2 separate regions of the Homo sapiens genome follow, and region 1 is linked to region 2. The links come from fine-mapping of genetic effects on gene expression. A gene starts in region 2. The other region holds a variant in brackets. All regions are shown on one strand. Distances are between the middles of the regions. Region 1 overlaps GXYLT2 (glucoside xylosyltransferase 2). Region 2 holds the start of GXYLT2 (glucoside xylosyltransferase 2).

Evidence for each region.
Region 1: its variant is fine-mapped to the expression of GXYLT2 in lung (TOPMed, PIP 0.98).

The regions. Positions count from the first base shown.
Region 1 is chr3:72,970,422-72,975,789 of GRCh38, reverse strand. It overlaps GXYLT2 (glucoside xylosyltransferase 2), which reads right to left. Exons shown (of 7, transcript NM_001080393.2): 7 at 1-813. The coding sequence ends at 631. Among named protein-coding and RNA genes, the nearest start is that of PPP4R2, 24 kb to the left of the region's middle. RefSeq lists a silencer at 4,568-4,697. The variant C/T (reference allele first, on the strand shown) is at 2,909.
Region 2 is chr3:72,884,930-72,890,305 of GRCh38, reverse strand. GXYLT2 (glucoside xylosyltransferase 2) reads right to left here and starts at 2,260. Exons shown (of 7, transcript NM_001080393.2): 1 at 1,798-2,260. The coding sequence starts at 2,072. RefSeq lists silencers at 1,761-1,890, 1,991-2,220.

The DNA of each region.
Region 1 (5,368 bases), 85 kb before region 2:
CCACATAAAAATCTCAGCAAAAAGGCCAGCTTTTACTGAGATTACCTGTTTTAGATGTGTGTTAGAGTGGAAAATGCAAAAGTAGAGAAAAAAGGTTGTAAGGAACTGCTTTAAAATGGAAACAATCTTTTCCACTGGTCAATAGGATTATGGCTAATCTAATCTTGATGTTGAGCCCTTGACCCATATGCTCTACAAGTGTGTCTCTCTGTTTCAAAAGTGTGTATTACTTTTATAACACGGGTGTGGGGGAGTCAGTTGCATAGAAAGAGTCTCAGGAATGCTAGATCAATATAACACCTCAGGTGCCACTGAAATGGTCTCAGACGTTTAGGAATTAGAAGGCTCACAAAAGCTATTTTCACAGCTAGCTCAACCTGCTTAAACAATGTTAAATGAGTAATAGTCTTTTTTTTTTTTCCTTAGAGATAAATAGCATTTTAGAAAAAAAAATAAGGAAAAGCATATTCCCTTTTGGGGGCAACTGATTTGGCAAAATTTAACGAGGTTTTTAAAACTCAACAGTCATGGAGCACCATTAAATATTCACACAAAAAGACCCAGGCAGCTTAGAGATTAGTATTTCCTTGGTCACAAGACACCTAATTGACTTGCAACAAGACAAAATATTCAGTGCATCTGGTTGGGGCCAACATGGATGATGACGTGTTTCTCATAAGCCCTTTTCATTGTTTTCTCAATTTGCTTCAGAAAAACTTGCGGGATTCGTCCACATAAAGTGTGCACAGTCTCCAAAAACTTCAGCTGAAGGGGGTAATACATGGATTGAAAGAGATTGTCTTGAAAGGGAAACTGAAAGATGACAAAAAAAAAGTTTATTTAGTAACGGAAATGCCATTTTAAATGCAGATCATTTTTACTAAGAAATGACACAGGAATTACGATAAGCCCACAGGCACAGGTTTGGACAAGTGAAAAGACCTTTGAGGATCTAACTTAAAATCCTGTCTCAGCTGTGCAACCCCAGGTAATCATTTAAACTCTCCGAACCTCAGTTTCTTTACCTCTTTAAAAAGAAAAAGGCTAGGCATGGTGGCTTACACCTGTAACCCCAGCACTTTGAGAGGCCGAGGTGGGAGGACCACTTGAGCCCAGGAGTTTGAGACCAGCCTGAGCAACATGGCAAGACCCCATCTCATTAAAAAAGAATAGTAATAAAATTAAAAAAAAATTTGGGTCCTTAAGGGTCTTACAATCTAAAAATGATGCATGTCTCTAAGGACAGGAAAGTCCATATATCATAGCATGTTTACGCTGAGTAGAAGGAAGGCTCAAGATACTCACTTGAAATCTACTACAACAAAACAATGAATTCTTCATCTTTTTTGACCTTAATGAAGAAACTTTAGGGTATGTCTATGGTAATCTCGTGAAGTTCAGGGTTTAACAATTACTAGTAAAATTTATTGGCAATAAACCAGATTTTAATAATTCAGGTACCAAATATTAGTGGTTGTTTATTTCCCTCTTAATATTGGGCTTTTGAGATCATCACTGCCATTTTTTAAAATTCTTTTGTTTTCTTCATGGAATACGTCTATGAGCAGTATAACCCAAAATAAATCTTTCAGACCACTTAGTTACGCACATGTATCAAAGTTTTATTACAATCTTGTTGAAAGGGAAAAGTCTGGTAGTAGATCAAGTCAAAGATCCACTCTTGGTCAGGACATTTTATATGGAAAGACTAGTGAGAAATGAAAGAAGAATGGTTAAAGATCAGTACACTCTTGCCTAACAGGAGAGGTGGGTGTCTGGTTTCCTAGAACAAATGTTAATCCTTTAAAATTAATCAGAAATACTGCTTACACAGGTTTATCAGAGATGCCAGTTTCTTCTCGGAAGGAGATTATGCATTATGTAATGCAAGAAGGTTCTCTCCCAGACCAGGTTGGTTTGGGATACTTTTTCTTTAATCATGAAATTTAAATCATTGATAAACCCCTTGAAGCCAGTCCTGAATCTGTCCTTTTCACCACTGTAGCTCCAGTAATGGGAACAGGATAGGTCAAAACCTTGGAATCACCCTCAATTCCTCTCTTTCCCCCCACAACCCTCATCCAATTCATCAGCAAGTCCTGTAAACTCTATCTCAACAGCATATCCCAAATATGGCGACTTCTTCCCATTTCCTGCCACCACGCAAGCCCATGCTGGCCCCATTGCTCACCCAGGTGGCTGCGATTAGTCTCACAAATAAATAGCCTTTGTGTTTTCACTCTTGCATCCCTTCCACCACATTACCAAGGTGATATTTCTAAATCATAAATCAGAGCCTATCACTTTCCCGAAGGGGCTTTCCACTGCCATTAGAATGAGATTCCAACTCCTCCCTTGTTCTAAAGGTTCAAGGTGACCTGGAAACTCTCCCCTCTCAGTTCCTCCTCTCTCCTCTTATCTGGCCATTCCTGTCTTTCCAGCACACCAAATTCATTCCTGCCTCCGGGACTTTCCCCTGGTCATTCCTTCTGTTTCACGGGATTTTCCCCAGATTTCCCCTGGGCTGCCTCCATCTGATAAGTCTAGGACTTACAAGCAGCCTCCCTGGTGCCCCTCCCCCAGCTGGTAGAACACTCCTCTCCAGCCCAGGACTTTGGACCCATCAGCCCACTCTTTTTACACCTTTTGAACTCCTTTCACCTTTCACTATCTCAGAGGATTTTTTTTTCTTTTGAGATAGGGTCTTGCTGTGTCACCCAGGCTGGAGTACAGAGGGGCAATCACGGCTCACTGCAGCCTTGAACTCCTGGGCTCAAGTGATCCTCCATCTCAGCCTCACAATTAGCTGGGACCACAGGCACTTGCCATGACGCCCAGTTGTTACTATTTTTTTTCCTAAAGAGGCAAAGTCTTGCTCTGGCTGGAGTACAGTGGGGCCATCCTAGCT[C/T]ACTGTAGCCTTGGCCTCCTAAGCTCAAGAGATCTTCCCACCCCAGCCCCAACCCCTCCCCACCCAGTAGCTGGGACTACCTGCATGTGCCACCAGGCTAATTTTTTTTTTTTTTTTTTAATTTTTGTAGAGACGCATCTCACTATGTCGCCCAGGCTGAATTTTTCTTTCTTTTTCTCAATCAGTATTGTCTGGCTTCCCCCACCAGAATATATGCTTCTTTTTTTTTTTTTTTTTTTCCGAGACAGAGTCTTGCTCTGTCACCCAGGCTGGACTGCAGTGGTGCGATCTTGGCTCACTGCAACTTCCACTTCCTGGGTTCAAGAAATTCTCCTGCCTCAGCCTCCTGAGTAGCTGGGATTACAGGTGCCTGCCACCACGCCCGGCTGATTTCTGTATTTTTAGTAGAGATGGGGTTTCACCATGTTGGCCAGGCTGGTCTCGAACTCATGACCTCAGGTGATCCACCTGCCTCGGTCTCCCAAAGTGCTGGGAGGTGTGACCCACTGCGCCCAGCTCAGAATATATGCTTCTTAAAGACTAGGGCTTTGTTCATCTTATTACCTTCCAAATTCCTAGAAACTAGAATTGTTCCTGCATAAAATAGATGCTTCATAAGTGACTGTCAAGAGAATTACTGCAAAAATGTCTATATGATAGATGCCTTCTTGTGGGGAGGCTGCACTGCCCTTTCACACAAACACGTACACACAAACACACAGGTTAGGATGTCTATGAGCACCTGAAACAGAGAGAGAAATAGAGAGAAAGAGAGAGAATATTTTCAGAGACAGATGAAGGGAGAAAAAGAAAAAGGTATATAGAGAGAAACTGTTTATAAGCAAGAAGAGAGAGAGAAATGTGAAAAAGCTAGAGAAAGTGTGAAATTGTTATCATCAAAACAACTTCCTTATATCTTTTTTTTTTTTTTTTTAGATGGAGTGTCACTCTGTCGCCCAGGCTGGAGTGCAGTGGCACGATCCTGGCTTGCTGTAACCTCTGCCTCCCGGTTTCAAGCCATTCTCCTACCTCAGCCTCCCAAGTAGCTGGGATTACAGGCATGCGCCACCACGCCCGGCTAATTTTCATGTTTTTAGTAGAGACAGGGTTTCGCCATTTTGGCCACGCTGTTCTCGAACTCCCGACCTCAAGTGATCCACCTGCCTCAGCCTCCCAAAGTGCTGGGATTACAGGTGTGAGCCACCGCACCTGGCCAAAACAACTTCTAATTATTGCACAAACTGTATGTCAGGCTCTGTACTAAAAGCATAAAGACTATCATTTTGTTGAATTTTCATAACACTTGTTTGAGGTAGATAATCTTATTATCTACACTTGACTGATGAAAAAACTGAGGCCCAGCAAGGTAAGGGCACAGTTAATGGCAAATCACCAGAAAGCGGCAAAATTGGGATTTGAACCTGTCTGTCCAGGCCCAAAGCCAAGCTCTGACCCACTACACAATGGTTCACAGCATTGTAGAGAATGGGGAAATACATCTTTTATGATGGAGTCTCTTTACATTTACTCACATTTTGGGTCAGGGTTAGTCATTTTTCTGATTGAAATGCCTGAATGAAAACTATATTTTCAGGCCCAACTGAGGAAAATCATGGAGTGTACTAAGCAGAATCATTTATGAAACAAAGTTGTTCAGCCCTCTTTCTGATCCCCCAGAAAACAAACAAGATGAGTTGCAACTCAAGAACCACAACTGCTCAACTCCAAACCAGGGGTGACAGATCACAAAAGAAACCCAAGAGTGGCTCTGATAGACACACGGCTGCTGTGTACTTATTTAACTTCTGCTCGTACTCCTGAATGAGTTTGCCCCTGGAGTCAGTGTTTGAATATTTAAATGTGAGGATATCATTAAGCACAGAACAAATTTTCTGCATAATTAAATCACCTGGCCTTTGAAAACCAAATAGCAGGAAATGCAGAAGGAAAAGCTTGGATGCATGCTAAACACTTTCCCTGTACAGAAGTCAACTCTAGAAATTGCTTTTTTCTTTTTTTGAGATGGAGTTTCACTCTTGTTGCCCAGGCTGGAGTGCAATGGCATGATCTTGGCTCACTGCAACCTCTGCTTCCCAGGTTCAAGTGATTCTCCTGCCTCAGCCACCCGAGTAGCTGGGATTACAGGCATGCGCCACAACGCCCAGCTAATTTTGTATTTTTAGTAGAGACGGGGGGATTTCTCCATGTTGGTCAGGCTGGTCTCGAACTCCCGACCTCAGGTGATCCACCCACCTCGGCCTCCCAAAGTGCTGGGATTACAGATGTGAGCCACCACGCTCAGCCAACTCTGCGAATTTCAGAGTTAGAATTCTCCAGGACTCTCCCTAGCAAATGCATACTTTCTTTTTTTCATTTATTTTCTTTTTTTTAATTTGTTTTTTCAGAGACAGGGTCTTACTATGTTGCCCAGGCTGGTCTTGAACTCCTCACCTCAGCCTC
Region 2 (5,376 bases):
GGAATCTGCATTTCTAACAAGTTCCCAGATGATGCCTGTGCCACTGGTCTGAAGTCCACACTTTGAGAACCACTGTCAAAGGGTTATGGTTGGGCCCGGCGCGGTGGCTCACGCCTGTAATCCTAGCACTTTGGGAAAGGCTGAGGCAGATGGATCACTGGGCTCAGGAGTTCCTGGCCAATATGGTGAAACCCCGTCTCTCTACTAAAAATACAAAAATCAGCTGGGCATGGTGGCACACGCCTGTTTGCCAGCTACCTGGCAGGCTGAGGCACAAGAATCACTTGAATCTGGGAGGCCTGAACCCGGGAGGCAGCGGTTGCAGTGAGCAGAGATCGCAGCACGGCACTCCAGCCTGGGCGACAGAGGAAGACTTTGTCACAAAAAAAAAAAAAAAACAAAAAAAAAACCAAAAGAAAAACAGCGGTGGGGGGGAAGGTTATGGTGTGGATTATGTAGTTGTATATGTTAAGTGTTAACTGTGACTATTTGTATGTACTGCGGTTAGCACTGTCCCTGGCAATAGGTTAGCGATGTTAAGGATGACAGTTATTATTATCTTACCAGTTGTCCCATCAAACTTAGCAATCATATTAAACTTGCAGTTAAACCCTAATTAATCTCTTACAAGAAACTCCAGTATAGAAGAGGGGAAATCCTATTAATTTCCTAACAAAGATATCCTTAAAGACTGTATACATCCAGAAAGGGCTGTAAAGTGTTATAAGTACTTTAAAGCGACAGATTGTTGGGGTTTTTTCCCCCTAAAACTTGTCAGTACCCATTTGTACTGAGACAGAAGGGAAACAAAGGCTGACACAGCTACTTCTTGAGGTTTCGTGTCTTTTAGTTACAGTAAAGGCACCAAAGAGATTTAGTCATTATGGTCAAAAATAATTTTTCAACTCCTTTCAGGTTGAAATTAAGGAGCCCAGCAAACAAGGACGTTGCAATGGCAGTTAGAAACAACAGTTTTGAAAGGGCAGATGAAACAGACTCGCTACAAGACAAGGGGATTGTTGAAAAGCCCTCCACAACAAAGGAAATGAACTCAAATCCCTAACCTGCGGGGCGTTCCAGCAACCCTGAGGCCAAAAATAAAGCTCTCTGATGAAAAGCCTCCGCGTGTTAGGCTTTGTGTAGGGAAAGAGAGTATCAAACAGAAGGTCGAAGGTTAAGTTGTTTTTCTTGTAGGAGGACCCTTTGACCACACTCGAGCCTGAAACAGAATGAGGATCTGGAAACCCCCACTCTGTCTTTTCTGTGCCACGCATCAGTCCTTTCAAGGAGAAAACTTCTTTTTAATAAACTTAGGTCAAGTGTCCCTTCTGTTCTAAGCATGGGGGTACTCGAGGTTAAATGAGAGGCTGCCAGTCCTTGGTAAACATCTAACTTTTCCAACTCAACCATATCTAAGGTTTCGGTAAAATTCTCCAGTGAAACATGAGAATTAGATAAAACATTCTTGCACCGTGATGGCTTTTGACAAATTAAACAAAGGGTGCATGTTTGCAAGAGTGCAAAAATACGCCTTGCCTTGACAGTTAAAAAATGTAATGTACGAAACCACTTTCCTTGACACTTCAAAAAATGTACGTGATTATCAACACCGAGCTGTTAGGGGGACTCCACCAAGGTGGGTCTTCTTTTCTATCGGGTTAAGAAACAGAAGTGGGCAGCCCGTGGGTGAAACTTGGAAATCTGTCTCTCCAGCGCAAAGCCTCCCTTGGACTTGGCACGGGTGTAGGGAGCGAGACACGGGTCCGCAGATGGGATTCTGGGGTTGCCACGACTCACCTCGCCAACTTCTCCAGTCTCGCAGCGCCCCGGCGGCCCGCTCGGGGGCGCGGACGCGGGGGCCGGCGCCTCCGAACTCCCGGGCTGGCCCCGGGGAGGGCGCCCGGCCCCGGCCAGCGCGCGGGGACAGGCGCGGGGTGGCGCTGCGGGGCGGACGCGGGGCGCGCGGGCAGCGCTGGGGGCTCAGCGCGGCCAGCGCGCAGGGACAGCAGCGCCAGCAGCAGCGCGGCCAGCGCGAGCAAGAGCAGCGCCGCCGCCTTGCTGCGGAGCTTCATGGTGCGGCGCGGCGGCGGCGGCGGCCCCCAGGCGGCTCGGCCCCTCTGCGCATCGCGGCGGCGGCAGGATGAGTGCAGCAGCGCGCGGCGGTCGCCTCCTCCGCCCGCCCGCCGGGGACTGGGGTCGTGGCGGCCGGCGGGCGGCCGGCGGCGGCGGCGACGGCGAAGGAGGAGGAGAGAGAGGAGAGGAGGGGGAGGCGGTGAGAGCTGGGTTACAGGAGGAGCAGCCTGCGCCTACCGTACTGTGTGGAGTAGCCGCCCCTCCGCCCGCCCGCAGCCAGGCTCTCGGGCTTCTGGTAGCTCAGACTCAAAACCACTTCATTCATTCATTCGTTCGTTCGTTCGTTTACTTCCCCATTCACTCACACACCCATGCCATCCACTGTTCCCGCTGATTCTCTCATACCATGATTCACTTATTTGTTGATGTATTCCATGTGCTTCCTCCTTATTTATTTTATCCATCTATCCACACATTTGTGCACTTATCCACACATCCTTTCAGGCAGGAACATCTCTGTCCTGTTTGCCCAGTGCAGGGATCTGCGGGTGGTGGTGCCCAATAAATATCTGTTGAATAAACCCCTATTGCCGCCTCTGTCTTGCCACCTCCCTTTTTCCTGGAGGAGGACATATTCAACAAGGACACATGCAAAATAAGGCAAAGCGAGTAAAAGTAACACGTGATTAGTAGTTGGGGTTTCAGACTCAAAACACCAAAGTAGAACTTGGGACAGCTAGACTGGACCGAACCGATCCATGTAGTCTGAAGAAATTAGAGAATGAATTTCAAAGTTTGGATTTGAAATCTGACACTGTGCTTAACTGGCTTGGTGATCCTGAGGAAGCTGCACAACTTTCTTAAGCCTTAACTTCCTTACGTGCAAAATGGGAATGACAATACTGCTCACTACAGAGGCGTTTTGTGAGCATTAAATTAAATAATGCCTTCAAAGAAACTAGCACAGTGCCTGGCTCACAGTCGGTGCCCAATAAAAGTTCTGTAATGATTAGTTCAATAAAACATAGCTTATAATATACACATAAACACACATTTTATTTTCTTTCTGGCACAGATTTGAGATAGAGTAATAATTTCACAACACAATGTAAGAATGGCTTCTTTGGAGACTTTAACAGCTGCAATCGCCAGATGAAGGTCGTAATTTCCAGACGATTCTTCCAGGGGATCCCCAGTTACAAATCTGAAACATTAGGACACATCCTCTTATGACTCACGGTGAACTGACAGCCAGGACTCCATTAACTCTCTTTTCAGCACACCACAGAACAAAGAACACTAGTTAAGTTATAACAACGTCCCTGAGTTTTTCAGTTTTTTTTTTTTTTTTTTTTTTGGATCACTCTGTAGCCCAGGCAGGAGTGCAATGGTGCAATCTTAACTCACCGCAGCCTCCGCCTCCCGGGTTCAAGCCATTCTCCTGCCTCAGCCTCCCAAGTAGCTGGGATTACAGGCTGCGCCACCACACCCGGCTGATTTTTGTATATTTAGTAGAGACGGGGTTTCACCACGTTGGCCAGGCTGGTCTTGAACACCTGACCTCAAGTGATCCGCCCGTCTCGTTCTTCCAAAGTGCTGGGATTACAGGCATGAGCCACCGCGCCCAGCCCGTCCCTGAGTTTCTACAAGATTCCATGTTGCTTTATAAATAATCTAAAATTTAGTTATATTCTGAATTATTCTCATATTAGCATTTTATTTTAATTCCTTGAGAACCCATTGTATTAAAAGTTCTAGAGATGAGAATATTTAGTAATTTGGAAGCTCTTGCCAAGCAGACATCTAGGAAATGGCAGGGTGCAAGTTCAGTGTGGGGGACATGTTGTAGGTGAGTAAGCGCAAAGAATCCATTAGTTCTCAAAGATGAGGGAGAAGGTTCCATCCTACCAGGAAGCATCTGGAATTGTGGGAAGGCTGACAGGTTCTACTAGCATATGCAAAACCTCCTGCAATGCTCAGGACATACCAACAACGAAAACTATCCTGGCCCAATGTGGGACCCTGTTGAGAAACACTAGGCCAGGCTAAGGCATGATGTTTAGATCTTTCAGGTTTAGAAATGGCCACCACTCTGTTGACATGTGGCCCAGAGAAGCAGGCATTCCCAACTCTGTCTTGCCCCCTCCCTTCTACCTCTAGGAGGACAGATGCAACAAGGATAAACAAAGGCAGAGTGAGTCAAAGTAACACTTGATTAGTAGCCAGGGTTTTAGCCTCAAACACCAAAGAATCATGGACCAAAGAGAGGACTCAGTTTTCTTGAACCTCACTGAAGCCAAAAAAAAAAGCCTAATCTGCCTCCTTCCACTGAGTCCAAACTCAACTTTTGGATTTGTTTGGATTGCTCTGATTGGTGGAAAACTACATCCTCTAATTTTTTTTTCTTTGGATGTGGTCAAATCTCATTTTAGTTGCAAAAGACTTCATTTACAGCACATTCAATAATGAACCAACAGGAGAGTTGCTGACTTTGGAACATATGAATATATAAAAATCCCTCGCAATTCAGGTAGTCAAGATAATAAGCACATACAAGGAAAGCAAACCTCATTTCTCTGAAAACGTTTACATTTTAAAAGATGACTAGGCATACTTGGACGTTCAAAGCAGTAGGATGTCCCTTGCAGGGAAAGAAGGAGGAAAACCCTTTTCCGTGTTGTTAGGCAAATGTATATCAAATATATCCCAATTCCACTTGATAAAGTCAGTTGGATGACCTCCTTGAACCAGGCTAGGGCAGAACACTTAAGAGGGCCTTGGGTGGGGATGTGAATCCAGGAGAAGAGGAACACCAGATCCCATGCAGTGCCAAACACATCTGTTCCACCCTCTAACACAGATGAGGCACGTCGCCCATGTCCCTGGACACCAGATGCACAAGAACAGTCATCAGATGGTTACTGCTCCCATGGCCTGGTGTTTTCTAATGGTCTTAATTCAGGCCATGGAGAAAATCCTTTACCACCAAGCGCAAACTGTCATCGAACTTAAATCATAAAGGATGTTATGGGGGAAATTCTTGTAACACATACATAAGGACTTCTATTTAACTAATTAGAATAATGATTACATAATTGACATTCCTGTTTTCATAAGGTTTTGTTTTCTACACTGGAATGGCTTAAGAAAAAGTTGTCTATTTTTGATTTTATTTTACACTTTCAAAAGAGAGGGAACAGAGAGAAAAAATGTGACTAACTGCTCAACTTTGGGTCCCAGCAGGTACAAAAGTGGACTTCTCTGACTCTAGGTCCATCAGATTTGGGGGAAGTTTCAGTGCCT